Linked DNA regions of Homo sapiens. The protein of the gene in region 3 purifies or fractionates together with the protein of the main gene of each other region. This does not show direct contact. Each region holds a gene or a part of one and is shown on either strand. Other genes may lie near its edges. The genes, in order: CD9, ITGB5 and ITGA3.

The links.
Region 1: the proteins of ITGA3 (region 3) and CD9 purify together in Homo sapiens (affinity purification with western blotting; 3 studies listed by BioGRID and IntAct, with this or other methods). This does not show direct contact.
Region 2: the proteins of ITGA3 (region 3) and ITGB5 purify together in Homo sapiens (affinity purification with western blotting; 2 studies listed by BioGRID, with this or other methods). This does not show direct contact.

The regions. Positions count from the first base shown.
Region 1 is NC_000012.12:6,201,879-6,212,882, reverse strand, and holds part of CD9 (CD9 antigen), read right to left. Parts: intron 1-11,004. UniProt on the Homo sapiens protein: Integral membrane protein associated with integrins, which regulates different processes, such as sperm-egg fusion, platelet activation and aggregation, and cell adhesion.
Region 2 is NC_000003.12:124,875,334-124,886,337, forward strand, and holds part of ITGB5 (integrin beta-5 isoform a precursor), read right to left. Parts: intron 6,528-11,004; exon of another isoform or gene 6,510-6,527; intron 3,357-6,509; exon of another isoform or gene 3,270-3,356; intron 1-3,269.
Region 3 is NC_000017.11:50,051,570-50,059,109, reverse strand, and holds the start of ITGA3 (integrin alpha-3 preproprotein), read right to left. Parts: upstream 3,001-7,540; 5' UTR 2,671-3,000; coding exon 2,465-2,670; intron 1-2,464.

The DNA.
Region 1 (11,004 bases), on a different chromosome or scaffold from region 3:
TTATACCATAAGGGCAGGCTGGGGAGAGGGGTCCACACATACACTTAAACCCAACATTCCATGACAAGCTGGGTCCCTGGGGAGGCCAACTTCTGCCTTCTGTGGCCATTTAGTGCTCTAGACACTGAGATGATTATGGTACCTACCCCACAACCCATACAATTCAACATAAAAAAAGTTGAACTTGTAAGATAAAGCTCAAAAAAAGTGCCTATTTCCCTGGATTCCTTGAGCTGCCTGCATTGTTGGTGCCCTAAGCACATGCTTAGCCTGCCTACTGACTCTGTGGCCTCCCTTTCCAGGGGTGCTAGTGCAGCTGGGGGGCTCCTGGGTGGAAGGGTGAAGGTGGCCCTAGACAGCTACAGCCTGGGGGTGCCACCACCTTGCTATGCCTGGCTCGTTGTGTGTAAATGTTCGAGCCTGGCCTCAGGCTGGTGCAGGCCATTACTTTACAAGAGAACATTCCCTGTGGGAGCAACAGTAATGCAATGCATGAGAGGTTTCCCAGGGAGGAGACTAGAATTACACTACAAGGCCCTGCTGCCCCTTCTGATTCTTAGTGGGCTGCCTTAGAGCCTGAGAGCTAGTTAGAATCATCCCTGTGAGAGATGAAGAAACAGGCTCCGAGAGGTAAAGCGACTTGCCCGTGGTCACAGAGCAGGCATGAGTGACCCAGCTGTCAGCACTCTTCCTCTGACGGTGCACAGCACATGCCATGCAGAGATCGGTTACTTGCTGACCTGTCTCCTCCCTGATAGAAGGGAGACAGCTTGGTCCCCTCTCCAGGGTGTGGCAGAGGATGAGGAACTCCGTAAGCTTTTTCTCAGCATATCTTTCTGGAAATTAGGCAGCTACCTGGTCTGAACAAGTTCGAGTTGAGAAATCTTCCCTCCTTTCAAGGACAAAGTCAGCATCATTTAAAAACCTGGAGCCCTTCCTCTGCCCTGGAGAGGAGAAAAGCTTCAGTGAAGTGTACTGGCGTTAGGATGTTGGGGCTGATTGGGAGGGAGGCCCCAGCCCAAGGTAACCTCTTTCTAAACAAGAAATCCCATTTCAAGTTTCCACTGCCTGCTTGCCAGACGCGTAGCATACACTGGCCAGCCCATAAATCCCTTTTCCACTGAAAGCAGGCATTCTGATCTTAACCAAAATCATCTGATGTGGGGGATTGTTTTGGATGTTTTGCTTTAAATTCCAGAATACCACACATTTGTTTTCCGTTGTGTATGCCTCGCCGAGCTGTCTGGCGATGACTGCACACACTCTTGCTGACACACTCTAGCCACTTGCAGCAGCTTGCTCTCATTCCATCTGCAGAGTTGGCCGCCACGTGCGTGCGTGGCCCTGAGTGGTGGGAGATGCTCCTTCCTTGACAGTTTTCAAGCAATGCCAGGTGGTGCCTGGAGTGGCAGGGTCGGCTAAAAGCACTTCCGGCACCGCTTGGTGGAACGGCCCTCCTGCTCCAACATGGGATCTTGCAAACCCCAAGCCAGCAAGGGAGGCCAAGATCCCCAAACTCTTGTCTAACCTATCAACCTGCCCTACCCCTCTGCCAGGAGCTCCTTCTTCATATTAGGTCACCTAATTACTAGCAGCAAGTACTCAAATATTTGCTATCTATGTTCCACAACCCCACCCTAAGCACTTCTCCAGAACTATTTAGTTTTCAGAATAGGCCCACCAAAGAGGTAATATTGTCTTCTATTTTTTAGATGAAAAAACTGGGGCACAAAAGTTAAGTTGCTCGGGCCGGGCACGGTGGCTCAAGCCTGTAATCCCAGCACTTTGGGAGGCCAAGGCGGGAGGATCACAAGGTCAGGAGTTCAAGACCAGCCTGGCCAACATGGTGAAACCCCATCTCTACTAAAAATATAAAAAAATAGCCAGGCATGGTGGTGCGTGCCTGTAATCCCAGCTACTTGGGAGGCTGAGGCTGTTCAATCGCTTGAACCCAGGAGGCAGAGGTTGCAGTGACCCAAGACCACGCCACTGCACTCCAGCCTGGCAACAGAGCGAGACTCCTTCTCAAAAAAAAAAAAAAAAAAAAGTTGCTCAACTGAGATCACAGGGCAAGTAAGTGGCAGAGTTAGAACTTGAACCCAGAATGGTCTGACTGCAGAGCCCCAATTCTCAATTATTTTGTTAAGCTGTTTGTGTTTTTGATCCATTTCTTCTATTCTGAAGCCAGAATTTTTTCCCTTTTGCCTGTTTCCCCCCCATTCATATCTAATCCCATTTCAAAGTGGTGTTTTCGATCTTTAAAGGCCACAAGGGAGCCCATCTGCACCGGAAGGAAGGCAGCTTGCAGACGCGCCTCCTCCCTGACAGCAGGGCAGCTGCATGGCCACCTGGGCTGGAGATGCCACCTACACCTGGCCTCGCTTGGGGGCAGTGGGGGTAGTGGGTGCTCGAAGAGAGTCTAAAAAAAACAGCCGGTGCTTCCTCTCCCTGGCCTTTGTCCTGAGAGCTTCAGCCACACCCTTGGTTCCACTGGTCATATAGTCAGGGTGGACAGAGGCGGCGCTCTGGGAAGGGACTCTCCAGGGCAACTCGCACATCCTCCTTTCCCCTTGGCTGCACTGTTGCAGCTGCCCATTGGCATTGTGTCCATAGACGGGACCGCAGCCCGTTCAGTGGCCATGGTCCTTCCATCCCCCGTGAAAACAGCCCCAGAGTGGGACCCGGAGCCTCTGCCCTTCCCCAGAACCACCCTGCCAGCAAAGGGCAGAACAAGATGACATCAGCACAGGCCTCTCTGTGTTATAGCCCTGGGCACGAGCTCTCAAGACACACCCCAGGGTCCTAGAGGAGAGTGCCAGCCTCCCATGACAAAGAAGGCCAAAGTGTCCCTCCTCATCCTAGAAGATAATCTAATTTCTATTTGAAATGAGCAGTCCCAGCTGGGCGCGGTGACTCACGCCTGTAATCCCAGCACTTTGGAAGGCCGAGGTGGGCGTATCACCTGAGGTCAGCAGTTCGAGACCAGCCTGGTCAACGTGGCAAAACCCCATCTCTACTAAAAACACAAAAATTAGCCGGGCATGGTGGTACATGCCTGTAATCCCAGCTACTCAAGAGGCTGAGGCATGAGAATCGCTTGAACCCAGGAGGCAGAGGTTGCAGTGAGCCGAGATTGTGCCACTACACTCCAGCCTGGGCAACAGAATGAGACTCCATCTCAGAAAAAAAAAAAAAAAAAAAAAGAAATTTGCAGTCTGGGTCTCTAAAGGGTTGTGTCTTAGGGAGCCAGGGCTACAATTTGACTAGAGAGGAGGAAAGGAGAGTATGAAGAGATTTTCTCAGGCTTGTAGACAGGAAGCTTTAAAACATCTGAGCTTAGCAATAATAAATTTAAATCCACAGTCCCACATTGTGAGAAAGAAGATGTTTACATTGCACCATGGAGAGCAGGAGGAATATGTCTTAGTGGGAAGGGCCTCCCGTCTCTAGGAACGGGGCCGCTGAGGGAGGTATGGATGACTCCCCACCCAGAAAACATCCAGTGGAGTTGGGCATAAATCTGGGGTGTGCATGCACACTACACACTGCAACTGCCCACCTACAAGGGAAGACATGATGTGGATTCAAACACCAGATTTCTATTGACTTGAAAAGCTACGACGAGCCCGGTGCGGTGGCTCACGCCTATAATCCCAGCACTTTGGGAGGCAGAGGTGGGTGGATCACCTGAGGTGAGACCAGCCTGGCCAACATGATGAAATCCCATCTCTACTAAAAATACAAAAATTAGCTGGGCGTGGTGGCATGTGCCTGTAGTCGCAGCTACTCAGGAGGCTGAGGCGGGAGAATCACTTGAACCTGGGAGGCAGAGGTTGCAGTATGCCAAGATTGCGCCACTGCACTCCAGCCTGGGTGACAGAGCGAGACTCTGTCTCAAAACAAACAACAAAAAAAGCAATGATGAGTTCACAAATAGTATGATTTTGCTGATCATTTCATTTAGAGTTTTAATAAATCAGTACACTGTATTATCATACTACATTCAATCAACTTAGGTTTAAAAGACATTAAACTACACACCTGTAATCCCAGCACTTTGGGAGGCTGAGGCGGGTGGATCACCTGAGGTCAGGAGTTCAAGACCGGCCTGATCAACATGGAGAAACCCCGTCTCTACTAAAAATTAGCCGGGCATGGTGGCACACCCCTGTAATCCCAACTACTCAGGAGGCTGAGGCAGGAGAATGGCTTGAACTCAGGAGGCGGAGGTTGCGGTGAGCTGCGATCGCACCATTACACTCCAGCCTGGGCAACAAGAGTGAAACTCCACCTCAAAAAAAAAAGAACAAAAACAAACAAACAAACAAAAAAAACTAAAATCCTTGAATAGGTTTTGAATTAATAAATTCATAATTAATAAAACTGCCTGATTAACTTTATGGTATTTTTAGCCTCAGTCGAGGTTCTTCTCCTATGACCCATGTATTGTGTTGTTTCTGAACTTGGAGACTAACACACAGCTTAGACTGGGAGTGTCAGCAAGGGACTGGCACCTGAAGCTGTGAAGCTCAGTTCCGAGGAGAGGGCTTGGCAGGAGCCACCAGCTGCTTAGCCTGCTCAGAGGTGTCACTGGAAACTTGGATGTGCATTGGGTAAGCTGTGAAGGGTTACTTTTCTTTTCTTTTTTTTTTTTTTTTGAGATGGAGTTTCACTCTTGTCGCCCAGGCTGGAGTGCAATGGCACGATTTCAGCTCACTGCAACCGCCGCCTCCCAGGTTCAAGCAATTCTCCTGCCTCAGCCTCCCAAGTAGCTGGGATTACAGGCACCTGCCACCATGACTGGCTAATTTTGCATTTTTAGTAGAGAGGGGGTTTTTCCATGTTGGCCAGGCTGGTCTCAAACTCCCAACCTCAGGTGATCCGCCTGTCTCGGCCTCCCAAAATGCTGGGATTATAGGCGTGAGCCACCGCGCCTGGCCTGAAGGGTTACTTTTCTAGCAGAGCTCATAAGAGCCACTATTTCTTCCCTCAGGCACAATGCCTGGCTTAAGGATTGAAGAGGAAGGGCTCTTAAGACCCGGGTTTCTGATTTTTCTCCAAGTCAGTAGTCCCCAAACTTCTCTCTACCGGGACCTCCTCTGGAATCACATTAATCCGGGCCCCTCTCCAAGTCAGGCTGCTTTGCCTTTCCCAGTTACTCAACCAGGCTGCTTCTCAACTCCTTGGGAGTGCAGCTCCCCAAATGATCCCTCCTGAGACATTCCTCCTTTCTGCAAGTCCTCAGAGGACGAGACTTTCCGTCTGCATTTGGAGGGAAGGAGAAGAGAGACAGACCTCCTTTCTTCCTGAACAAAGATGAAGCACCAAGCTCTGGGAAAAGCTAAGCCAAGAGGCCCAACCTGGCTGGAAGATCATACAGTTGCATTTTTCGTGTGTACTAGAAATACAGAGCACTCATTAAATTAACCGAGTGAAAACCACTCCTTAGGCAATGATTAAGCTGAGAGTCAGAGGGATGGGTGGGAGGCCAGCTGTCCCATCTGAGCTGCACTTGATCACTAGGGAATTTATCATTTCTAATGCCTTTCACAAAGTCCCCTGTGATGCCCCCATTGCAGCCCCCGGGGAACGGTGAGGCAACCTGCTTCTTATGGCAGAAATATGGGACTCAGGACAGAGCAGGGGTTGTCTGGAAACTGAGGGAGAAAAACCAATATGGGGCATTTATAGCGTGAGCTCAGGCTGGGCGTGGTGGCTCACATTTATGATCCCAGTGCTTTGGGAGTCCGAGGCTGAAGGACTGCTTGAGCCCAGGAGTTCAAGACCAGCTTGGGCGACATAGAGAGACCCTCTCTGTACAAAAAAATTAGCCGGGTATAGTGGTGTGTGCTGTAGTCCCAGCTACTTGAGAGGCTGAGGCCAGGATTGTGTAAAGCCCAGGAGTTTGAGGCTGCAGTGAACTATGATGGTGCCACTATACTGCAGCCTGGGCAATGGAGAAAAAGGCAAAAAAAAAAAAAATGTCTATGGGCCTCCAGAAACAGACATAACATTTTTCTGGAGGCAGGTCGTACTGATTCCAAGGAATTCCCTAAAAAGGAATTTCCCTAAAAACGTTAAGATGTATTAGTCTAGGATGACAGGATATAGCACTTAAAACTATCCACAACTAAGTATTTTTGGAGAGGCGGGGGGAGGAAATTACCAGATAGATACAATTATTATAAAATTATCACAAAAAAATTATCTCATCTGGGGACAGGATGTTGCTTTCTACGGCTGCATGCCATCACTTGATGGAAAATGAGAATGTCCCTGGACCAGCATGACTTTTTCCATGGAATAAAACAGGCAAGTAATCTGTAGTCAGGCCTTAAAACATAAATTTAAGAAATGTAGGCCAGGCGCGGTGGCTCATTCCTGTAATCCTAGCATTTTGGGAGGCCAAGGTTGGCAGATCGCTTGAGCCTAGGAGTTTGAGACCAGCCTGGGCAACATAGTGAGATCCTGTCTCTACAAAAAAATTAAAAGGTTAGCTGGGTGTAGTGGCACATGCCTGTAGTCCCAGTTACTCAGGAGGCTGAGGTGTGAGGATCGCCTGAGCTGGGAGGTTGAGTTTGCAGTGAGCCATGAGCCATGATTGTTAACACTGCACTCCAGCCTGGGTGACAGAGTGAGCACCGTCTCCAAAAAAAAAAAGAAAGAAAGAAATGTATAAAGACTAGCCCCCGCCCCCTATTCCCCTGCATTTTTTTTTTTTTTTGTCTTCTGAATTTCCTTCCCAGTTGCAAAGGATTTTTCCTGCTCTCTGAGGCCATGGGTCTGACAGGCTCTCACCCAGATTTTCAGACTCTTAACAAGGAAGTCGTTGCTCTTCTGTGTGTATGGGGTAAAGCCTGTTTCTGCAAGGCTTTGGTTGAAAAGACCTGTGGTGGATCCAAATAAAGTCCCGCTGACCCCAACCTGGGGGAGGGAGGAACACAAAACATAAACATGCAGCTTCCTCAAACTTCTCCACTCTCCTTTCCCCAGCTCCACACAGGTCTGTCTAGAACATGCTGCCAGTAGGACCACAGAAGCTGTGGTTGGGGTGACCTCAGGCCCCCTACCCTCACAGCCAGGCTCACCCAGGTGAGAACCACACCCAGGCAAGAACCATCAAGGTTTGTGTTCTTTAGAAGAAAAGGCGCCTTTGTCAATCCAAGGTATTATTAAGTTCCAAACCCAACCCTGCAACCAAGTCCAAAAGCTATGCCTCCTTATAAAATTGAACAGAACAGGAAAACAAAAACAAACAAACAAACAAAAGCAGACAAAACAAACACAGGATCTATGTGTGTAAGGGGGAGATTCTCATCCAACACTGCTCCTGGAGGAAGGGGTGAGAAGGCTGATTTGTGAGCCCAGCAGCCGCAGAGGGCTCATCTAGAGTCAGTACTGGCAGGGCCCCAGAGAGGGCTGCATATCAAAGCACTCCCAAATTCGGGCTGGAGCCAGCAGCTGCTTCCTCTGAGCACAATAGAGCAGGGTCTGGAATCGTGCTGTGGGCCACGTTGAAAAGAAGGGGGTAGAGAACGTGAGTGTGAGCGTGTGCAGAGGAATCCTCACCACCATCAAAAGATTGGGTCTTTGTTGTTCACACCCACTGTGGGTGTAGGGGAGAGACCATCAAAATCCTGGGCAAAGGAAGCAGATACCTGGCCTCAGCTCACCTCTCCCCAAGCCTGCCAGCTTCAGTGCACGTGTAGCCAGCTTCACCCCAGCGCAGGCTGTCTGGGCACTGGAGGTGGGAGCCATTTTATGCAACAGTCCCAGCAACTTGCTTCTGGGGGAAAAGGCAGACCATGGGGAGGGGCTTTTGCCACTGCCACCCAACTTGTCCATGCCCTGCCCAGATCCGGAATCCTGATCCTTAGGGTTTCTCTGACAGGCAATTTTATTTTCAGAAGCGGGGCCTTCCCGCAGCCAAATGAGCAGTAGCAACCCATGAAATGGAGTCAGGGTTTTGATGCACAGGACAAAGTTGGCACTGATACAGGAAGGGGCAGGGAGGCCAGTGTGTGGATTGGGAGGGTCCTCCTGGCCACATCTGCGGTTTAGACTTCCACACTTCTTAGAGAACTGCTCTCACCCTCCCCAGGGCCTCATTCTACTCTCCACTAGTGAATAACAATAGCTACTGTTGGAAGATATGTCTGGTGCAATCTACTATGCTAAGTGCACTACACATACTCCCCATTTAACTCTCACAGCACCATGTGGGGTGGTCACCAGCCCCATCTGGTGATGAGACATGGAACCCAGGACTGGTGCTTTGATCACTAGGCCAAGTACTAAGGTATACGGGCAATGAACACCCCTGAGAGAGACCCCACCCAGGGTGAGGAGAGGGAACTGAGAAGCAACAGCAAAGAAAAGCACCAGCTGGGCTCTTGCTCCAGAGGTAAAGGCCAAGAAAAGCTAAGTTCTGAGGACTCAAGCCTTGGTATCCATCTCCCATTTCCAATTCAGGGCTTGTATTTTGTTTATTATATTATTATTTATAGATTTAGGGGACACGAATGTAGTTTTGTTACACATGGTGAAGTCTGGGCTTTTAATGTGACCATCACCAACATAGTATACATCGTACCCAATATTGGTTCCTATTTTGGGTTGTGTAGGAGAGTTCTATTGTTGTATGTGGTATGTGTAGGGGTGTTGGGTTCATAGACTGAGCTTGAAAGGACCTTTTGAGACCATTTGTTCCAAGCTATTGTTTTACAGATGAGGAAACTGAGGCTTAGAGCACAGAAGTGACCAACCCAAGGTTTCAAAGTGAGTTGAGGACAGAGCTGGGCTCACATCCAGGTCTCTGAATTCCCAGTGTAGGTCTCTGTGTTTCGCACCAGCCTCCCCTAGGTCTAGGGGATATGGTTTCTTGGGAAAGAGACCTCCCAGCCCCACACTGCTGTTTCCATCAGTGAGCGAGGCATGAGAGACAGTAAGCAAAGGGGCTGAGGGAGGTGGGGAGGGGATTGGGCTCTGTCAGTATAGCCAAACCTTTCCCTCTTTTGCCCTAAGGAGTTCCTCCCCTTCTCTGACCAGAAAGAGGGCAGACATGCATGTGTCAGACTGGACTGGCCCTAACCCTGGTTCCCCATTTCAGCTGGAGAAATACTTGTGTGTCTACCACATGGACATCAGCAAGATGTTTTCCCTCTCAACTGTTTTTTGGGGGGTGGGCAGGCGGGCAGGGAGGTCTGAAGGAAATGTAGAAACAATCAAAATAGAGCTAGGAGGGCCGGTTCTGGAGGTGGTGGAAGAACAGACTGATTTGCTGGTTTGGCTGTGGCCATCAGGGAGTGACCCACAGGGATGAGATCAGGCCAGGGAAGAGGCACAGCCCCCCAATAACCATCCTACTCCACTGAGGTTGGCCTCTCTCTGGATGCCTGTTGGACACCCCCTCTCAGCAGCCTCTGTGCAAAGTGCTGCTGGGCACTGGCCTCACAATTCCTGCTTTTCAAGGCCCACATCAGGTTCCGAATGCCAAGTTTATAAATGTCTGGTCTCAAGAGAGAAACGGACGTGGTGACAACATAATCACCCAAGCAGTTCCCTTAGGTTACACCTTTCCTTAAGGGAGTCTTGGGAGCTTCTTCCCACCCTTCTCCCATTCCCACTCAGCAGCCAAAACCAGTTGGGTAAAGTAACCTAGTTCTGAGACCACCCTGCCGCATCACCTTGGATAAGTCACCTAACCTCTCTGGGAAATGGTTTCCTGATCATCAGTACAGTGGGGACAATGCTTCCTGCTCTTGGCTACATCATGGGACTAGAACAAGAAAGGCTCTAAAGACTAACACTCTGCACAAGTGGACCGACCACAGTCTTCCTTTTCATTACATCATCTCCTAGGGATGAGGGCTTCATCTCCACAGGGACCCAGATACAGGACAAATGAACAGTAATTCAGGAAAACATAGCTACTGCCCATCTTCCTGCCTCTGATGAAGATGGAAGAGGACAGAAGTAAAGTAGGGGCCCCAGGAATTGTAATACTGGCTCTGTCTCTGCGATCCTGGGTAAATCACCCCATCTCTCTTCCTCTGCTGCCTCACTATGAATAAGAGAGCTGGACTGCATGATCTTCAAAAGTCATTCCAAACATTTCCAGTGTGAGTGATTTCTGTTTCAGACTACATAGGTCATCAGCTGCACCTAGGCTGGGGCCAGGCATAGGGGGTTCTGAATACGAGTGGGGTGGCAGGCTGAGGACAGTACGGACAGATTGCAGGCCAGCAGGCCACAGACAGAGTAGATACCAGTGGCCCTGTGAGCCTCGCATCAGCTTCCTGCATATGCCATGGGGCAGATGGGGGTAGGGAGGCACACTGTGGCAGTCTGTGTTTCCCTGCAGTCCCAAACCTGGATGCAGTCTAGGCAGACAGCTGAGGACTAACCAACACACCAGCCGGGAGAGACTGTACCTGGGAGGGGAGAGGAAAACTCCCAAAGTTCAAGGGTGGGTGAGGCCAGCTGCCTTCCCGCATACTTTTCTGCTGCCAGGGATTGGTGAAAGAAAGAAGCTAAGCGTGGCAGCTGGGTGGTTGCTGGGGTGGGTGGCAACACAGGAGGAGGGGTGCCCACGGCCAGCAGGGTCTTTTTAAAGCAAGTCAAGGGTTGGGAAGGAGCACACCTATATGCCGTCCTCACTGGGGTGTGTGTTATGGTGACTGATGCACTGGGGGAAGTCAGTCTCTGCAAATTGGAAAAACTGTTCAACCACCCCTTCAGCTCTGGGGAGGAGTGAATCTTAGAAGATTTCCCTAAGGAGGCTTGTGGGGACCTCAGTGACCAGCTCCAGGGGGAATAAGTGCATTTGTTTCTTTTCTACTTTTTTTGAGACAGGGCTCACTAGGTCACCCAGGCTAAGTGCAGTGGTGCAATCATGACTCACCGCAGCCTTGACCTCCCAGGCTCATGCCATCCTCTCATCTCAGCCTCCTGAGTAGCTGCGATCACAGGTGCATGCCAACACGCCCAGCTAATTTTTTATTT
Region 2 (11,004 bases), on a different chromosome or scaffold from region 3:
TGGGTGTGGTGGTGCACCTCCTAATCCCAGCTACTTGAGAGGCTGAGGCACGAGAATCACTTGAACCCAGGAGGCGGAGGCTGCAGTGAGCCGAGATAGTGCCACTGCACTCCACCCTGGGTGACAGAGCAAGACTCTGTCTCAAAAAAAAAAAAAAAAAAAGACAAAAGCCAGTGCTAGCAAGAATGTGGATAAAAGGGAACCAGGGAAACTCTGTACACTGTTGGTGGGAATGTAAATTAGTACAGCTATTATGGAAAATGATATGGAGGTTCCTTAAACCAGAAGTACTATGTGTTCCAGCAATTCCACTTCGGGGTATATAGTCAAAGAAAATGAAATCAGTATGTCAAAGACATACCTGCACTCTCATGTTCCTTGCAGCACTATTCATAACAGCCAAGATATGCAATCAACAGACAGATGAATAAAGAAAATGTGGTATTTTTAAAAAGTGGTATACACATACAATGTAATCTATTCAGCCTTAAAAAATTGAGAAAATCCTGTCATTTGGGACAACATGGATGAACCTGGAGGACACTATTAAGCGAGGCACAGAAAGACATACTGCATTATGTCACTTATACGTGGAGTGGAAAAAAACTGAACTCAGAAATACGGAGAGTAAAATGGTGGTTGCCATGGCTGGTGGGGTTGAGGTGGGATGGAGAAAGGCGAGATGGTTAAAGGGTACAAAGTTCCAGTTAGAGAGAATGAATAAGTTCTGGAGATCTATTGTGCAGAATGGTGAAAATAGTTCATAATAATGTATTGCACACTTGAGAATTGCTAAGAGAGTAGATCTTAAATACTCTCACCACACAGACACAAAGATAACTATGGGAGGTGATAAATATGTGAATTAGCTGGATGGTAGTAATCACTACAAATATATACATATAATAAAACATCATATCATATACTGTAAATATACACAATTATTTGTCAACTACCTCCATAAAGCTGGAAAAAGAAAAGAAAAATTTAAAAAGTAAAAGAGAAGAAATGCCAAAATAGGGGTTAAAAAAAAAACAAACCAGTATCTTGCAACTGGAACATTTCCCTAATTTGCTAATTTTAACTCCCTGCTTCTCCTTTGTCACTAGCAGTAAAAACTCACAGAAATCGCAAACGGCAAAACTGCTGACTGGCAGAGGGGTGGGTGCAGGAGGTGGTGGTAGGGGAAGGAAGCTTTATCATGTCACCCCAGGGACTTTAGAAGGAAGAAATACCAATTGGCATAAGGATAGTAGCTGGGACCAGAGGGAAGGGAGAAACAGGCAGAAGCTGAGAGGCTAGGAAGAAAGGAAGAGAGGCTTTGAGAACCCACAGGGGGTGAGAACAAAGGTTTCCACCAGCCCTAACCCTGAACCCTAGGCCTCCTCATCCTTATCTACCTCACCCAGGGAGGCCTACAGCAGGAGGATCTGAGGCTGCTGGGACCCACCCACCTTGCCTGACCTCACTTCAGCAGGAAAAGCCATCCAGGGCCAAATGTGGACGAAGAAGGTCTGAGAACACAACCTACTGGGAAGCTGGACCTGCCTGTGTATGTGCTGACAACCTCCTAATTTTAAATGAATTCACTCACTCAGTGAGTTTTCTTTTCTTTTCTTTTTTTTGATTTCTTGTTTGTTTTTTTTTCTTTGTTTGAAACAGGGTCTAGCTCTGCTGCCCAGGCTAGAGTGCAGTAGTGTGATCATAACTCACTGTAGCCTCAAACTCCTAGCCTCAAGTGATCCTCCCACCTCAGCCTCCCAAGTAGCTGGGACTCCAGGTACACATCACCACACCTGGCTAATTTTTTTTTTTTTTTTTTGTGGTGGAAGACAGGGTCTTGCCATGTTGCCCAGGCTGGTCTCAAACTCCTGGGCTCAAGTGATCCTCCTGCCTGGGCCTCCCAAAGTGCTAGGATTACAGGCGTGAGCTACCACACCTGGCTCACTTAGTGATTTTTAAATAGGCACTTAAGCCTTTAAAAACAAAAGTGTGTGCAGGAAAAGAGTTGCAAAATGTCAGTCCCATTTTTTGGTCAAATCCCCGTACCTGTCAGCAATCACTATCTGCAGGGGAAAAAAAATAAATCTAGAATGAAAGTAACTTTGCTCCTCCTCTCCTCAACCTTATCAAATACAAACTCAGGCTCGTTGTGGCATATCCTTTTCTTTGATATATAAAATCATTTTCATAAAATCATGAGATTATAGCACCTTGGGGCTAGGATTGTTTTAAGATGAGCTAGTCAAGTTGCCTCTTTTTATAGATGAAAATGTAAGATAATGAGAGTATGTGACTTGAAACAAGGAGCCCTATCTACAAAAAAGAGGTCAGACGGGGTCCTGACCAGCAAGTGCCCACATGGGATACCTGCCTGGTGGTCCCTCTGCCATCTTGGATGTAGGGCTGGTGTGACCTGCTGAGCTCTAGGGTCCTCTGGAGATCTGTAACAGCCCCTTTATCAGAAAGGAATTTGAGGTCAAAGGCCTCACGTAGGACTCTGATCAAAGCCACATAATTTTTTTTTTTAGACAGAGTCTTGCTTTGTTGCCCAAGCTGGACTGCAGGGGCATGATCTTGGCTCACTGCAACCTTGCTTCCCAAGTTCAAGTGATTCTCCTGCCTCAGCCTCCTGAATAGCTGAGATTACAGGCATATGCCATCACGCCTGGCTAATTTTTGTATTTTTAATAGAGATAGGGTTTCAGCATGTTGGACAGGCTGGTCTTCTGACTTCGACTCCTGACTTCAAGTGATCTGCCCACTTCAGCCTCCCAAAGTGCTGGGATTATAGACGTGAGCCACCGTATCCAGCTTCAAAGCCACATACATTTGCAAACAACACTTTATAATTACCAGAGCCTCATCATGAGCTCTGGGAACTTGGGCTGGAGGTCCAGGGCTCAGGACAATAAGAGCTCCTCAATTCTGATGCAGATCAGACTGAGCTCTGGTCTTCTGGTCCACCAGCCTAAAAGCCCTTACTTAATTGGACACAATACCAAAGAAACTCAAAGGATGTGATAGTCACCTGGTATGAAAACATCATGAACAACTGTAAAACAATTTGTCATATAGCATTACTAACTGTTTCTGTTATTATTAAATATTCACATGGAAAAGTAAAGTCGTTTGTACTCAAAATGATTGCCCTAAAATTCAGTTGCTGTTGGGACACATTCAAATTCAAGAAACTCTGCACTTAACACACCCTAAACGCTGAGCACTGGACTGGGGGGATGCTAGAAATGCACAGGTGAATGACCTACCAGCCCTTGATGTCCAGGAACTCACAGTGTGCCGGGTACCAGGTACCAGACAGGTACTCCAGGATCCAAAACCACAGGCTGTGTGCTGGTATGTGTAATGTCAGACTCACTCCCTTTGGCATCTCTCCTCTCTCCACCTATTAATATTTCAGAGTTTGGACTTTGCTGGATGAGTCATTTGGCACCAATAAGCATTTTGAAAAGGAAGGAAGCAATGAATAAAAAACTAAACACACGGAGTTCACAAATGTCAGTGTTAGGTCTAGGTCATGGAAACAGGAACTAGCAGCCCAGATGATAGCCACATCTCATCTTCTTTGCTGTTTGCATAGTGACTATTCCCAGCTCGGTGGCAACTCCATGTATCTCTTTTGCCTCACGTCTCTGAAGCCCAGTGTTTACTGCAAACTGTAATCTAAAAATATGTTCTTCCAAAATTCACTGACTCACCCCTGTGTTTCATCAATCATTCAAGGAGCCACCGCATCCGGTTGATCACTCCTTTCAAGATGCAAGAAATGTTTATCCTAAGCCAACCCTTCCTGTCTGCAACCTCTAGCCCCAACAACCCAAGCCAGGCCCTCTGGTCTAAATTCCTGCCATAGCCTCCTGGCTGGCCTCCTTCCATTCAGCCTCTCTCCACTTCTGTACACCCCATGGGTCCAAGGTCAGACAACTACTACTAAAACATACATCTGCAGTTGGAATTTCCTGATCCAAAATATTCAGTAGGATAACAGAAGTGAATACAGAAGCTGAAATGGCCTTTCTGCCTTGAAGATGGCAATGCCCTGGAATGCTTCTCCCCACACCCTGAACCAGGCCCTCACATTTGTCACACAATGGACAAAAGAGTCCCAGTATAGACTCCAGCAACTAAATAGCCATATGTCTAAATGTTACCATGAAATGCAAATATGCCCTAGGAAGGTTCTATCCCAGCAGTTCTCATTCAAGACTGCCTTTATGAACATCAGACATCTGCACAACACTCAACAATACCAGCCTTACAGATCTGACTTCTATTTTTAAAACACCAATTCATATAATGGAGTGCTAGACAGCTATAAAGAAAGAATGAGCATGCTCTCTGTATTGACAGGAAGCTTACCCCAATACATCGCTAAGTTAAAAATAAAAAGCAAGATACATACTGTGTTTTGTGCTGCCTCTGAATAAAAATGAAAGAGGGATATTCGTAACATATCCATAGAAACCCTCAGGATACATAAGAAAGCTTATTAGCTTTATAATAGGAACTATATAGGCACAATTTATTTAGAAAAGGGGGTCACAGAAATATCCCACACTGATGGGCAACAAGAAAGAGAGGCTTCTCGCTTGATATGAGTTATACTTTTAAAAATTATGGGACTATATTACCTATCAAAAGGTATTTTTTTAAAGAGGCAATTGATTACCTCTATGTTCTTCTTCCAAAATCACCTAACTCTGTCTAATCACGGGAAAAAATCAGAAAATCCCAAGAGGGGGATGATCTACAAAATATCTGACCAGTGCTTCTTAAAACTGTCAAGGTCATAAAAAACAAGGAAAAGACTGAGAAACTGTCACAGCCATGGGAACCCAAGGTGACATGACAACTCAATGTATTGTGGTATCTTGGATGGGATCCTAGAACAGAAAAAGGACTTAGGTAAACACTAAAGAAATCTAAACTGATGGACTTTAGTTAATAATAACATATCAATATGGTTCATTAATTATAATAAAGGTACCATACTAATGTAAGATGTTAATAATAGGCAAAACTGGGTGTGAGGTAGATGGGAACTCTTTGCACTATCTTCTCAATTTTTCTGGAAATCTAAAACTGCTCTAAATTCTTTGAAGGCTTTTTTAAGGGCCAGGCACACTGGCTCACTTCTGTGATCCCAACAATTTGCAAGGACCAGGTGGGAGGAGCAGTTGAGCCCAGGAGTTCAAGCTACAGTGGGCCATGATCACGCTAATGCACTCCAACTTGGGTGACAGAGCGAGATTCTGTCTTTTTTTAAAAAATAAATAAATAAATAAAAGAGACACCGGGCACAGTGGCTCATGCCTGTAATCCCAACACTCTGGGAGGCTGAGGCAGGCAGATCACCTGAGGTCAGGAGTTCAAGACCAACCTGGCCTACATCGTGAAACCCTATCTTTACTAAAAATACAAAAAATTAGCCAGGCATGGTGGCACGTGCCTGTGATCCCAGCTACTTGGAAGGCTGAGGCATGAGAATGGCTTGAACCTAGGAGGCAGAGGTTGCAGTGAGTCAAGATCACACCACTGTACTCCAGCCTGGGCAACAGAGTGAGACTCCATCTCAAAATAAAATAAAAAAGAAAGGGAAAAAGAAAAGAAAAAGTACATATGTAAAAGTTTGTTTGTTTGTTTGTTTGTTTGAGACAGAGTCTCTGTCTCCCAGGCTAGAGTACGGTGGTGTGATCTCAGCTCACTGCAACCTCGGCCTCCAAAGTTCAAGCGATCCTCCTGCCTCAGCCTCCTGAGTAGCTGGGATTACAGGTGCACACCACCATGCCTGGCTAATTTTTGTATTTTTAGTAGAGACTGGATTTTGCCATGTTGGCCAGGGTGGTCTCGAACTCCTGACCTCAGGTAATCTGCCTGCCTCGGCCTCCCAAAGTGCTGGGATGATAGGTGTGAGCCACCCTGCCTGGCCAAATCTTTTAAATAAAGTTTTTCTAAGCCCATTAAAATCCTGGGGTGAGAGAAGGGATCATCTGAGTACCAAGCATTGTGGCTGTGTCAGGGACACAGGTAAATAAGACCAGGGCTATTAACCAGGTAGCAGGTGAGACAGACCAGCTGCAGCCCCCAGTCTCTCTAATGGAATGGGCCATGAAAGCAGGAGGAGGAGGAGATAGTTCTGCTCCACCCAGGGATGTAGGGAAGGAGAACAGGATATACTGGGTATAAAAGATCAGAGGACTTGTTCTGTCACTTATTGGTTATGTGACCTAGGGCAAGTCACTTAACCTTTCCAGGCCTCAGCTTCCTCATGCAAACAACTCAGGGAGTAGACCAAATGGCCTCCATACCAGCTCAAAAAATCCTAACACAAAGCCAGGAGTGGTGGCTCATGCCTGTAATCCCAGCACTTTGGGAGGCCAAGGTGGGCAGATCACCTGAGGTCAGGAGTTCAAGACCAGCCTGGCCAACATGGTGAAACCCCATCTCTACTAAAAATTAAAAAATAAGCCAGGTGCGGTGGTGTACGCCTGTAATCCCAGCTACTCGGGAGGCTGAGGCAGGAGAATCGCTTGAACCTGGGAGGCAGAGGTTGCGGTGACCAGAGATTGCACCACTGCACTCCAGCCTGGGCAACAGAGTGAGACTCCAATTAAAAAAAAAATCCTGACACATTCCAACAGAATCTCTTTCTCCCAGGATGTTTCTTCCTAACAAGCCGCATGCATAGTCCCTGACTTCAAAGCTAGCTGTGGAAGGCAACAGGGAGTTGAGGACGGGATGCATCGCCCTCTTCACCTCCCAATTACCAAGATTCAGGTTCATCCATTATTCATTCAACAAATATGTGCCTGGTGCTGTTGTAGGCATGGAGGATACAGAGATGAATAAAACCAACAAGACTCCCTTATTCACGGAGCTCACATCCTGGCTGGGGGAGAATTCTACTTAGGGGAAATAGTGAAGAAGATATGTAGTTACATTAGATGGTGGTGAGTGCTAAGGACAAAAATTAAAGAAGAAAAGCAGATAAAAAGAACTCGGGATATAGGGAGGAGGTTGCAGCTTTAGCTGGGAGCGGCCAGGGAAAACTTGGCTGAGCAGGAGATGCTAGAAAAAGGGTTGCAGGGTGGAGGAAGCCGGTCATGCAGATATCTTGGAGGACAGTATTCCAGGCAGGGAGAAGGGCTGCCATGGGAGCATGGCTGGCACGCTGAAGGGACAGTGGGAGGCCCATGCTGCTGGAGCAAAGGATCGAAGGGAAAGTGGTGAAGGAAAGTCAGAGAAGTAGGTGGAGAGTTCGTGGAGCCTGGCAGGACTCTGGGAAACCATTCGAAGGTTTTAAGCAGAGAGATATGATCTGACTTGAGTTGGATCTCAGGATCACTCTGAGGGACAGTTGAGAATAACTAAAGAGAACAAGTTGCAGAAGTAGGTCCCAGCTCTACAAGAGACAACCAGCTCTGAAAATGTCTGGCTGGAGTTGGGGAGGGAATCCTATAAAGAGAGGGCAGGGTACCCCGCAGTGCCTTCAAAGCATCAGCCTTAGGGGATGAGTCAAGCCTGTCTTAGAGCAAACTTTTCACCATGAGGCCCGGGAAGTAAACCCTGCATTCAACGGAAGCAAGAAGCCTCAGAAACAAATGGGTGCCTCTAAATAAAGCATTCCTTTACATTTATAGAGGCCATTAATCCCATTCGAACCGGAAAGAAGGAAAACAAACCACGGCAGTCAGTTCTCCAAGGCCCTCGGCTCCAGCCAACTGGAAATACCTGTGAAAAGAGACCCTATCCCATTAACCCAGCTGCACACTGCCATGTGAAAGGGGCCCTATTATTTAAGTAGTTTGTAATTGTCCCACATTACTGATATCGTTAAAGCATCTCAGAATATTTCCATGGCCAGGCTGAATAAGAAAAAGTAGTTACCAGGCCACGCAGGCACAAAAGGCCTTTTGCCAAACTACTTAGATATTTTAATTCCCCGTTGCCTCAGTAGCTAAATAAGCATGGAGAACAAGCAGGCGGGGAATACTAATTAGAGCTAATTAGACCCTGCCCTCTTCTGCCTCAATCCCCTTTATAAAAAGCTCCCCCAACTCAAGGATGATGGAGTTAAAATGTAAATCCATAGGATAAACAGCAGTCTACAGACCAAACCCACTGTTTGTATTTCATTGTCCTGTCAGCTCTAAACCTGTGCCTGGTTACCTACAGAGAGCTGCAGACCCAGCCAAATTCCAACAACCCCATCACAGACCACAGGAAATGTGGTAGGGGGTTGGGGGTAGAGGAAGGGTGCTGCCAACATGAGTCCACTAAATAAAACAAAGGGCTTTCTTAGGATGTGCAGAGCATTCACTAGAAGAACATTCGATTGCTTTTTTAAAAAGAAATGAATGTGATAGCACACATAATTCCAGCGGTGTTGCAGGATCCTCTTTATAAGACGGTGTTCCTCTCTCTGTCTTAGCAAAGGCAGCGTGGAAAAGCCTCACCTCAGTGAGACCCCTGGTTTTGTGGGAAGACCACATCCTAGGATTCTGTCTGAAGGCTCTTGGCCATAAGATAATAAAAAGAGCAGGAGATAGCCCTTGGTGGGGACGGGAGGGGGTTGTCAGCCGGCCAGGGACTTGTTTGAAATGAGCCCCTGAAACCTAAGGTCAGTTTCCTGCTGGAAATCCGTACTGAGATGAAAGTGGGGTTAGAGCAACAGAGAGAGGCACTCAACCACTGGTCCAGGAACACCCAGGCAGGCATGGCCCTGAGGGTCATCTCTTTCTTTTCTCTGAGTAACTAGGTTTTTTTCTTTCAAATAATGTTCCTAGTGGCAAGACAGAAACACTCCCTGAATAAAGTACCTGTAGTGCTTCAAGAAAACAAAGAAGGGAAGGGAAGCAAAAAAAAAAAAGAAAAAAAAAAAGAATGTTGAAGTTAATTCAGCAACACTGAAAAACTAGGAGAAATGACACAGATGTGAGTCAACCTCTGCTAATCCTGAGAAGCTTCAGGGCCCTAAGAGGTAAGCAGCAAGTTCTGGAGGCCAGTGCCATGGCTTGCTCCACCACCACCACCACCAAAACCTGTAGTCAAAGAGATGGGCAGAGGCCAGCCGTGGTGGCTCACACCTGTAATCCTAGCATTTTGGGAGGCCGAGGCGGGCGGATCACCTGAGGTTGGGAGTTAGAGACCAGCCTGACCAACATGGTGAAACCCTGTCTCTACTAAAAATACAAAATTAGCCAGGCGTGGTGGTACATGCCTGTAATCCCAGTTACTCAGCAGGACAATCACTTGAACCTGAGAGGCAGAGGTTGTGGTGAGCTGAGATCATGCCACTGTACACCATCCTGGGCAACAAGAGTGAGACTCTGTCTCAAAAAAAAAGAAAAGAAAAGATAGGCAATGGGAAAACAGGACCCCAAAAGAGTTGCAAATGAACCACCATGCTCAGTGCTTTTCTCTTCCTTAAGCTGAGTCGGTAGGACAAAGGGCACTGGACCAAAAGCCATGGTCCCTGGTCCACCACTCCTGACCCAAGTAGAGGGGAAGGGCAAGTCACTTCCTTCCTGAGCCCATATGAGAAAATGGACATCACCGTGAAGATGTACGTGAACTCTGAAAAAGAGAAAGCAAGATGCAAGTGGAAAATAATGTATTTTTAGAAATTATTCGCAGCCAGGCGTGGTGGCTCATGCCTGTAATTGAAGCACTTTGGGAGGCCAAGGCAGTTAGATCACCTTAAGTGAGGAGTTCAAGACCAGCCCAGCCAACATGGTGAAACCCCATCTCTACTAAAAATACAAAAATTAGCCGGGCATGGTCGCAGCGCCTGTAATCATTGCTACTTGGGAGGCTAAGCCAGGAGAATTGCTTGAACCTGGGAGGTGGAGGTTGCAGTGAGCCGAGATGGCACCACTGCACTCCAGCCTGGGCTACAAGACTGAAACTCTGACTCAAAAAAAAAAAATTATTTGCAACTAGAAATTATTATTATAATTCTGTTTGTCAGAATTACAGAATGTCAAGCTGGAAAGGAACTTAAAAGCCATCTCCTTTGGCAGTTTCTGAACTTTTGGATTTCAAAGAAAACTAAGATTTAAAAACAAAACAAAAGAAACAAACAGAAAAAGAGAAGGGGAGCTTAACATAGGGTTGTCAGATTTTCTTATTTTGCCAAAATTAAAAACTACTAATATTATTAAGAAGTATTAAAAGAAAATGTTCCCACCAAAAAAAGAAAAAGTGCCTAATTTCAAACTAAAGGAAAGTCCTTGTGGAGCAGGGGAGCGTTGACAACAATACATTCCTGTGTGATGCAGGCTACATCTTCCTGCTCCTCGCTTTCCCTAGGGACCCATGAAAATATCCGTGATGGGCACTGGCTGCCGGATGGGTGTTTGGAATCCACTCATCTACTCTCCAAGCTCTGGAGTGATTATTTTCCCATTTAAAACAAAAACCAAAAACCTTGCTACAGTATTAAGTTTGAATTAGGGTCTGAACGAAGTTATTGTTTGCTCAGACCCCTCCTCCGCTCTTAAACCTAAACCTCCACTGCCTTCATGTAAATGAGACACCGTGGGGGAACAGTCCTCCCTTCGGGCAGCCAGGCAACCACTTGGCTCACAAGAGCAATCAAGTATCTCCGGCTTGAAAGTTAATAGAGCACTATTATTTCCTAAAAGAAAGGAGAAAATCCGCATCCCAAACAAGTGCATCCTTCCTCGAGGGCCTCCAAACTACCACGTCCAATCATCTCCCAACTCTGAAAAGTTAGAGCAGGTAACCGAGGGATCCTTGCAACGCTGCCAGCCCACCGCAGCGTCGGGCTAAGGCAATCTCCACAGCCCCTGTCCTCTGCTCCAGAATCCTCCACAGTTAGGGGAGTGTGAGGCTCCGAGCGTGTGCAAATCGCGGGATAAAGTCGGGCAGAAGGAATTTAATAGGGAAGTCCCAGGTGGGGCTGTGGTTTGGGACGCGGGTGCCCCCTCGGGTTTGCGGTGGCCTAGGCGAGGAGGAAGC
Region 3 (7,540 bases):
GGACCAGGAACCCCAGTCCAGAGATGAAGGTGATGGGGCAGCAAAGAGGGTCCCACCCCTGGGTTTCTAACCATTTCTGAGGCCTTATGAATGGAGAACAAGAAAGCTGTGCTCTCCCCTCCTCCCACCCCCAGGGCAGTGGACAAATACTACGATTTTGGGTACACTTTCAGGGAGTCCCTGCATCTCTTGAAAACCTTCTACGAACCCCAGTTTAAGAGCCTGTCCAAGACCACGAACCATCCCACTTTTCCAAAGAGACTTTCAGGCTAACAGAATATGAGGCTGCAGCTCGTCTTACTAGTTAGTTCCTCTGAGTTGTGCACTCAGGCAGCTGTTTGCATCTGGCTACACAGCTGGCTGCAGCTAAGCCCAGCTGGCTCTCCCAAATGGCCGAGGGGTCGAATTTAGTGAGATGAAGAGAAGGGCCAAGACACAGAACCACCCTTAGGAAAGACTGAGGATACTCAAGGGAGAGAACTGCCCCTCAGAGGTTCATTAGCTTTAGAACCTTCTGGGCTCTTGGCAGGCTGAATGCCAGCTCCAGCTTCCCAGACAGAAAAGTAGAACCCCTTTGCTCAGCCACCCTGGGCGGGGCCCATGGGTAATGAGGATGCATCCAGGTTCTGGCCTCAGCGCAAGAGCCTTCAGGTGCTCCTTGGAGAAAGGCACATGTGCAGAGGATTTTACGCACTTTATCTCGTTACAGCCCCACTAACATCCCAGCAGAAGGCATGCTGTTCCCCTCCCTCCAACATGTGCGGAAATTCAGGTTCAGGTATTGGTAACAGATCTGAGACAGGACACTGGCCATGGGACCTCCAAGCCTCTTCTCCCTCTACCATATCAAGTTGCTTCTCACAGGCCAGCAGCAGTGGGAAAGAGCACTAGATCCAGGTCCAACCCGTTTTGGGGGAAACCTGGCCCAGGGAGGGGAAATATCTTGCTCAAGGTCACCAGGCAAAAGGGTTGCGGAATCATTATTGACTCTTTCTTTCCAGTCTGATCTCTTTACCTATGTTATCTTATATCATGCAGATTTGGCATTGAAAGTCTGAAAATCTTTTTCTCAGTTAGGGCAGAAAGAGCTGATGTAGAAACTTGTGCTCATGGTGGCTCAGGATCTCCAAAAGATAGAGGGTTGGCTAAGGCCAGGTGGCAGCTGCTGGGGCCAGGCTGGGAAGGGTGTGGTAGCCCTAGCCTCTGCAAGAGCAAGATGGAGTTGAGGTTAAGTCCAGGTAGGTAGGCTGGGTCAGGAGGGCAGAACCAAGGCGGGGGCAGAGTTTGGACTTTGGACATTCTAAACTTCCTCAAGCTCTGCAGGCCCCAGCCAGAGCAGGGAGATTTTCCAGTGTACCCTGGATGTGACCACGTCTTCTTGTTCAGTGGGGTCAGAGGCCAGGTGGGGGCAGAGGCTAGGTGGGGGCAGATGCCTGGCAGATCGCCCAGCCCAAAGTGGTGGATGGTACCTGCTTAACCTGTCCTAAACACCGTCCCTCTTTGGACAGCTTCACCTCCCCCAACCGCCAACCTCCGCGCGCTCTGAGGCCACGGCAGAGAGACCTCTGAAGCCTGGACATGCTCCTGGGCATGAGGGCGTCTGGTGGAGTGAGGGGGACCCAGGAGGCTGGGTGCAACCTCCTCCTCCTTCCTCCACTGTGCATAGCTCTTCCCCTCCTCCTTGCAGCTGTTGGGGAAGGAGAACAGAAGAAAGAGAAAAACACTGTTTCCCTCTTCAAACCAAAACAAACACACTCAGGGTTGAAGATCCAACACGAATCTGTGGAATGCAGGGAAGATGTCTGCGGGGAGAGTGCCACTGCTTGCGGGTGGGCAGGAGGAGACCCAGCCAGAGTTGGGACAAGTCCTCCTCTCTCTTTCACCGCCCCTATCCTCAAGGCGTCAGAGGGAGCGTATGGACAGCTCCAAACGCCCAGACTCACCCATCGCCTCACCCTCCATCCGCCAAGCCAGCGGTTGAGAAGGCCATCCAGTCTGGCTCTGCAGAGGGTGTGGCTGGCGTGGCCGCAGACTACCAGCGAGGTGCTTAAATGTATATGCTCATTTTTCCCCCAAGCGTACGGGAAGGGGGGAGTCCGCTGGGTGTTTATCTTGCAGTTTACCCCAGCTCCCAGCCCTGGAGAGAACAGGCTAGTGCTGGGTACTCGGTTCACAGAATGGGAGAGGACTCAGCCACCGGGACCCCACTTCCGCTCTCATGAGAGATCTAAAGGGCGGAGGGGTGGCGTCCAGACAGGTTCTGGCCCCGTCAGCACTTGCCAATGATTACTGCCCGACCCCACACCCAATCCTCCACTTCCCGCCAACCCCCAGCAGCCAGAGGGCCGCCCCTTAATCCTGGCTCCCAAGGGCCAGCTGCCCTGGGCTCCGACTCAGCTCCGGACCCGCATCCCGCGCTCGCACACTCTCTCGCTCCCACCCCACACCCTCCAGCTTCACTTACAGGTAGCGCTGCTGCCGCTCTGTCTGCCGATGGAGGGCGACCGAGTAGCCGAAGAGGCTGCCCGGGTTCCCGGCCTCCTTCACTACCAGGAATCGGGTATCCAGGTTGAAGGCGGAGACGACGCAGCCGCCGGCCGCCACCATCAAGGCGAGCGCACAGAGCATCAGGCGTGGGGCGCGGGGCGCGCGGCTGGGGCCGGGGCCCATGGCTGCCAGCGGAAGCGGGGTCCCGGCGAGAGCGCGTGAGGGCGCGGAGCTGGGCGTGAGGACCTGTTCACCTGCTCCCCGCGCCGCCGGAGGACACTGGAACCCGCCGGCCGCTGCGCTCCGTAGCGCTGATCGGTTTCGTGCCCCCAGCCCCAGCCAGTTTCACAGCTGCGCTCTCGGATCCCTTCCTAAGATCCGTGGGTCTATCTTCCTGCCTCCCCAGCGGCCGGGTCGCCGCCGTCCCTGCCCCGGGCAACCGGCCCCCAGCTTGTCCCGGCCGCGCCCCCTTGGCCGCGCTGTCGCCTTCGATCCCGGCTTCGCGGCGGATCTGGCAAGCGCACCGGTCGACCGCAAGGAGGACAGGAGGGAGGGGTCCCCCGGCGCGCGCCCCGCCTCCCCACGCCCAGTCCCGCACCTCCCCACCTTGCGAGCCCAGCCCGGGCTGCGCTTTCCTTCCGGGGAAAGAGAAAAAGATCCCGGCTCGGCCGCCTCCTCTTAAAGGGGCAGCACCGCCCCTCCCTCCTCATCCTCCCTACCCCAGCTCCGCCTTCTCCCCCAAACACCTGTCGGCAACCCCCAAAGGCTTAGATTTCCCCTCCCCGCCCCTCGCTTCTCCGAGAAAGCGTCGCCTGGGGAGCAAGATGGATGTGACGGGCGGGGCCGGGGGTGGGATTTGTCTGGCCGCTTTCCTGCGGCTGCTGCTGCTGCTGCTGAAAAGGCCAGCCGGGCTGGAGAGACCTGGCATTGGCGCATCTGGGAACCGACGTCCGTGCGCGGCTGGCTAGAATGCTGGACTCGCCTCCGCAGCGCTGTGAGTCCCCAAGAGGTGGCTGGCGGTCTCTGGGAGTTCTTCCTCGCACTCAGGCCCCTCGCTGTCTTTGCCGAGATTTATTTCTCCTATCCACTCACCCTGATCCGAGCTGAGATTGGCTCCTCAGCAAAGACAGACATATTTAGCAGTGGTAACAACCAAATGTCGCTAATTATAATTACCAAAAAGCATTTTTCCCCCTAAGTGCTGCGACTTCTGGTATCAAAGGCTAAGACTGTCAATGTAGAAATGAGTCCGTCCTTCACAGAACGCACTGCGTAGCCGGGAAGCTGAGCCTAGACCGTATCCATTTCTCGTCCACTCCTGCCTTCAGGGCCCAGCCCAGCAGAATCCCAGAGGCTCCCTCTTCCCACCCAAGCTCGAACAGAGTGTTTGGAGACTGGGCTCGGACGTCAGCACCCATCAGGTGTTTGGTGGGTAGGGCCAGGTGGCAGTAAGTGGGCGGAGACTAAAGGTCTCCTCCACCAAGGAATCAAATCGAAAGGGAACTTCAAGAGGTTACTCTGGCCAGGCGCAGTGGTTCACGCCTGTAATCCCAGCACTTTGGGAACCCGGGGAGGGCGGATCACGAAGTCAGGAGTTCGAGACCAGCCTGGCCAATGTGGGGAAACCCTGTCTCTACTAAAAAAATACAAAAATTAGCCGGTCGTGGTGGCGGGCGCCTGTAGTTCCAGCTATTTGGGAGGCTGGGGCAGGAGAATCGCTTGAACCCGGGAGGCGCAGGTTGCAGTGAGCCGAGATCGCGCCACTGCACTCCAGCCTGGGTGACAGAGTGAGACGTCGTCTCAAAAAAAAAAAAGAGGTTACTATGTACTTTCTTGGATCTAACTCACATTTCTCTTATTGCAGCTCAGAGACCCATTTTCCCCGGAACATTGTTTTTTTGTTTTGTTTTGTTTTGTTTTTGAGACGACGGAGTCTCGCTCTGTCTCCCAGGCTGGAGTGCAGTGGCGCGATCTCCGCTCACTGCAACCTCTGCCTCCGGGGTTCAAGCGATTCTCCTGCCTCAGCCTCCTGAGTAGCTGGGATTACAGGCGCCCACCACCATGCCCGGCTAATTTTTGTATTTTTAGTAGAGACGGGGTTTCGCCGTGTTGGTCAGGCTGGTCTCGAACTCCTGACCTCGTGATCCACCCCGCCGCCTCCCAAAGTGCTGGGATTACAGGCGTGAGCCACCCTGCCTGGCCTCCCCGAGCATTCTTTTCTCCATCTATTCTTAAAATAATAAGAACAAAACACCATGTATTAAGCACATACGCAGCAGGAACTATGCTAAATGCTTCACAAATGTTAAATCCTCACAACAATCTTTGAAGTGTTATCTCTGTTTTAAAACGAGAAAAATGAGGCTCAGGGAGGTTAGGCAATTTGGCAGAGGTCACACAACTAGGATTTTCATCCTGTGTTATCTGACCCTGGAGCCCTTAACTACTTATGCTAATAATGAACATTTATACACTACTTTGGGCGTGTCCAAGTTTGGTGGGTCCTGAAGCTTGTGCAATCTGGGGTGCTCTTTAAGAATAAAATTATTTTGTACTCATAAGAATTATGAGTACAAAATTAGATTCAGAGCCTGGGAAAGGGTCCTGGCCTAGCTTTACAGTTTACAAATCATTTCACAAGCAGGCTCATTTTATCCTCCTGGCCTCCCTGTGAGGTGGGGATTATGATATTCATTTGACTTAGGAGAAAACAGAGCCTCAGGAGGTTACCTGCCTGTCCAAGATCTGAATTTTATGGGAGGCAGAGCTAGGACTGAAGCCGCTGACCACAACCGTGTCTTTAAGAAGACAAACTCCAGGCAGATGGTTGTCAGACAGCTAGACATGCCTAAACAAAAGCAGCTGTGATAACAGCTTTCTCTGTGGTGTTTGGGGAGAAGACACTTGTCTCTAACGGCCCTTAGAACAGGATTTGTTCCTGACCTCTGACTTCCAGAGCCACCCAGCCTCTCTCATGGTCTGCTTTGTGGCCCAGGGCCTGCAGGGATTAGAAGACATGTGGGGTCAAGGAACAGGAAGCTGACCTGGATGGAAGTTGAACAGTGATCTTTGCTCTCTGCCTGGCTCCTGAGTCCTCTGCCATGTTCCTGGAGAAGAGGAGCCAGCCAGGGTAAGAAGGGCAGGGGCTTAGGGTGGAAACGCCATGTGGGTGAGGATCCTGCCTGAAACAGCTTTGAGAGTCCTGCGATGACAGATTGGCCCCATGCCAGGCCTTATCTCTTTGGACATCCCAAACAGGAATGACCAGCATGTCCGATCCTGGGACTGGGAGCCGGAAAGGGATGAGGGATGGTTTTTCCACTCCAGGGGAGTGTCCAGAGGGAATGTGGAGCAGAGCAGGGGCGACTGGTAGGGGGAGGGCCTGAGCTAAAGAATGTGGGGGAGTGTCAGACCAGTCTGGGGAGATGGAGTGGGAGTGGAGGGAGACATGGAGACTAGAAGGATCTCAGCTGGAGAGATGGAGAAAGAGAAATCTCAGGGTTCTTTGGTTTCAGTGGCACCGTCGTCTGTAGGATCATCTCATCCCTCAGTTGACTTTATCATGTCAACTCTTTATCTGTCAACCCTCCCCCATGGGGAAGAGACCCACCTAGAAACACACAGACAGACAGAGAAACAAGGACACAGGAATAATATGTGTAATGAGGAGTCTAAGTCCATTTGTTGATGTTTGCTGACAGATTTTAAGCCTCACCCTTCCCTCTTCTCTGTGCCCTACACCTGGACAAGCTGATAAGAAAGTCTGGGTGCACCCTCCTTTGGTGTTTGAGGGGGAATATTCACAAGCCCCTTCCTGAGGGAACCCTCACCCCTCAACCACAATAAAAACCCAGGCCAGTCTCCTTCCTGGCTCTCCCAACACATCTGGGACCTGCTTGAAAGACTGCCCCTGCTCCCCCTGGAGACCTCAATTATGTAAATAATAAACCTTTTCATACTCTCTTGGTGTTTGGGTGGTGTCGTCAGTCTTCATTCAAACCAAACCTTGGATGGGATCCATCTGCCTCTGCAGGTGACCGTAACAACATGCAAATGGTGAGTTCTGCTGGGGGGTCATGGAAGCTCCCTGGAGGAGGTGTATCTGGACAACAGGGAAAGAAAGGAGCTGGAGAAGAGAGGCAGAAAAATTGGGTCCTGGTTCAGGTGAAGTTTTCCCAGCTGGAACAATGACAATGTCAATATCCCACAAAGGCGGCTTCTGTTTATTTAGCGCTTGCTGTGTTCCCACAAGTCTTCCTCTACCTGCCCTCTCCCCAGCCCTCATCTCACTCTCCCAGAGCCCCAGAGCACACCAATGGACACCATCACCTCTCGGGCAGATCAGCACAGAGACGTGAAGCACACAGGCAGCTGCTGGAAAAATAACAAGGAATTGCAATGGTGTGCCCCTCCGTTGAATGCAAGCTCTCTTCTGCCTTCTCACCTTGGGCAAGTTACCTTCCGTTCCAGGCCTCGGTTTCTCCATGTGTGAAATGAAAGGGCTGGAGAGAAATCTCTCACTATTCCCCAATCTACATTCATTGTATCCCAAACCTTCTAATATCTGTTCAACGAAGTGTACCAAATCTCAGCTATTGGACTGAGACTCAGGGGTCTATCTGACTTGAATTGAAAATGCAAATTACTGAAGAGGGAGGGAGGGAGGAGTGCTGAAGATTGAATGGATTTATCAGATTTCCTTCTCCTATGGCCCAGATGCAGGCCTAGTCCAGGCGATTCCCCTGGCTCAGAATCTGCCAGGCTCAAGCATTCATTGACAGCCTACTATGTACCAATCCTGGGCTGAGTCCCAACCCGGGGATGACTTAGAGGAGGCCAGGATGTGGCCTCATGTTCTGGTTGCTCTCACATTTAAACAGGCTAAACCCACTTTGCATTGTATGTTAGGGGTGGTGCTTGTGGGACAAAGGGGGCTGTCAGAACATTCTGGCTGCCACATGAAGTTGACTTTGCCAGGACAGACTGGGTTGTGGGGGAAGGCAGCTACTGTAATAATTTGGCCAAGAAGTGGGCTGAGCAGGAGCAGGGCTGA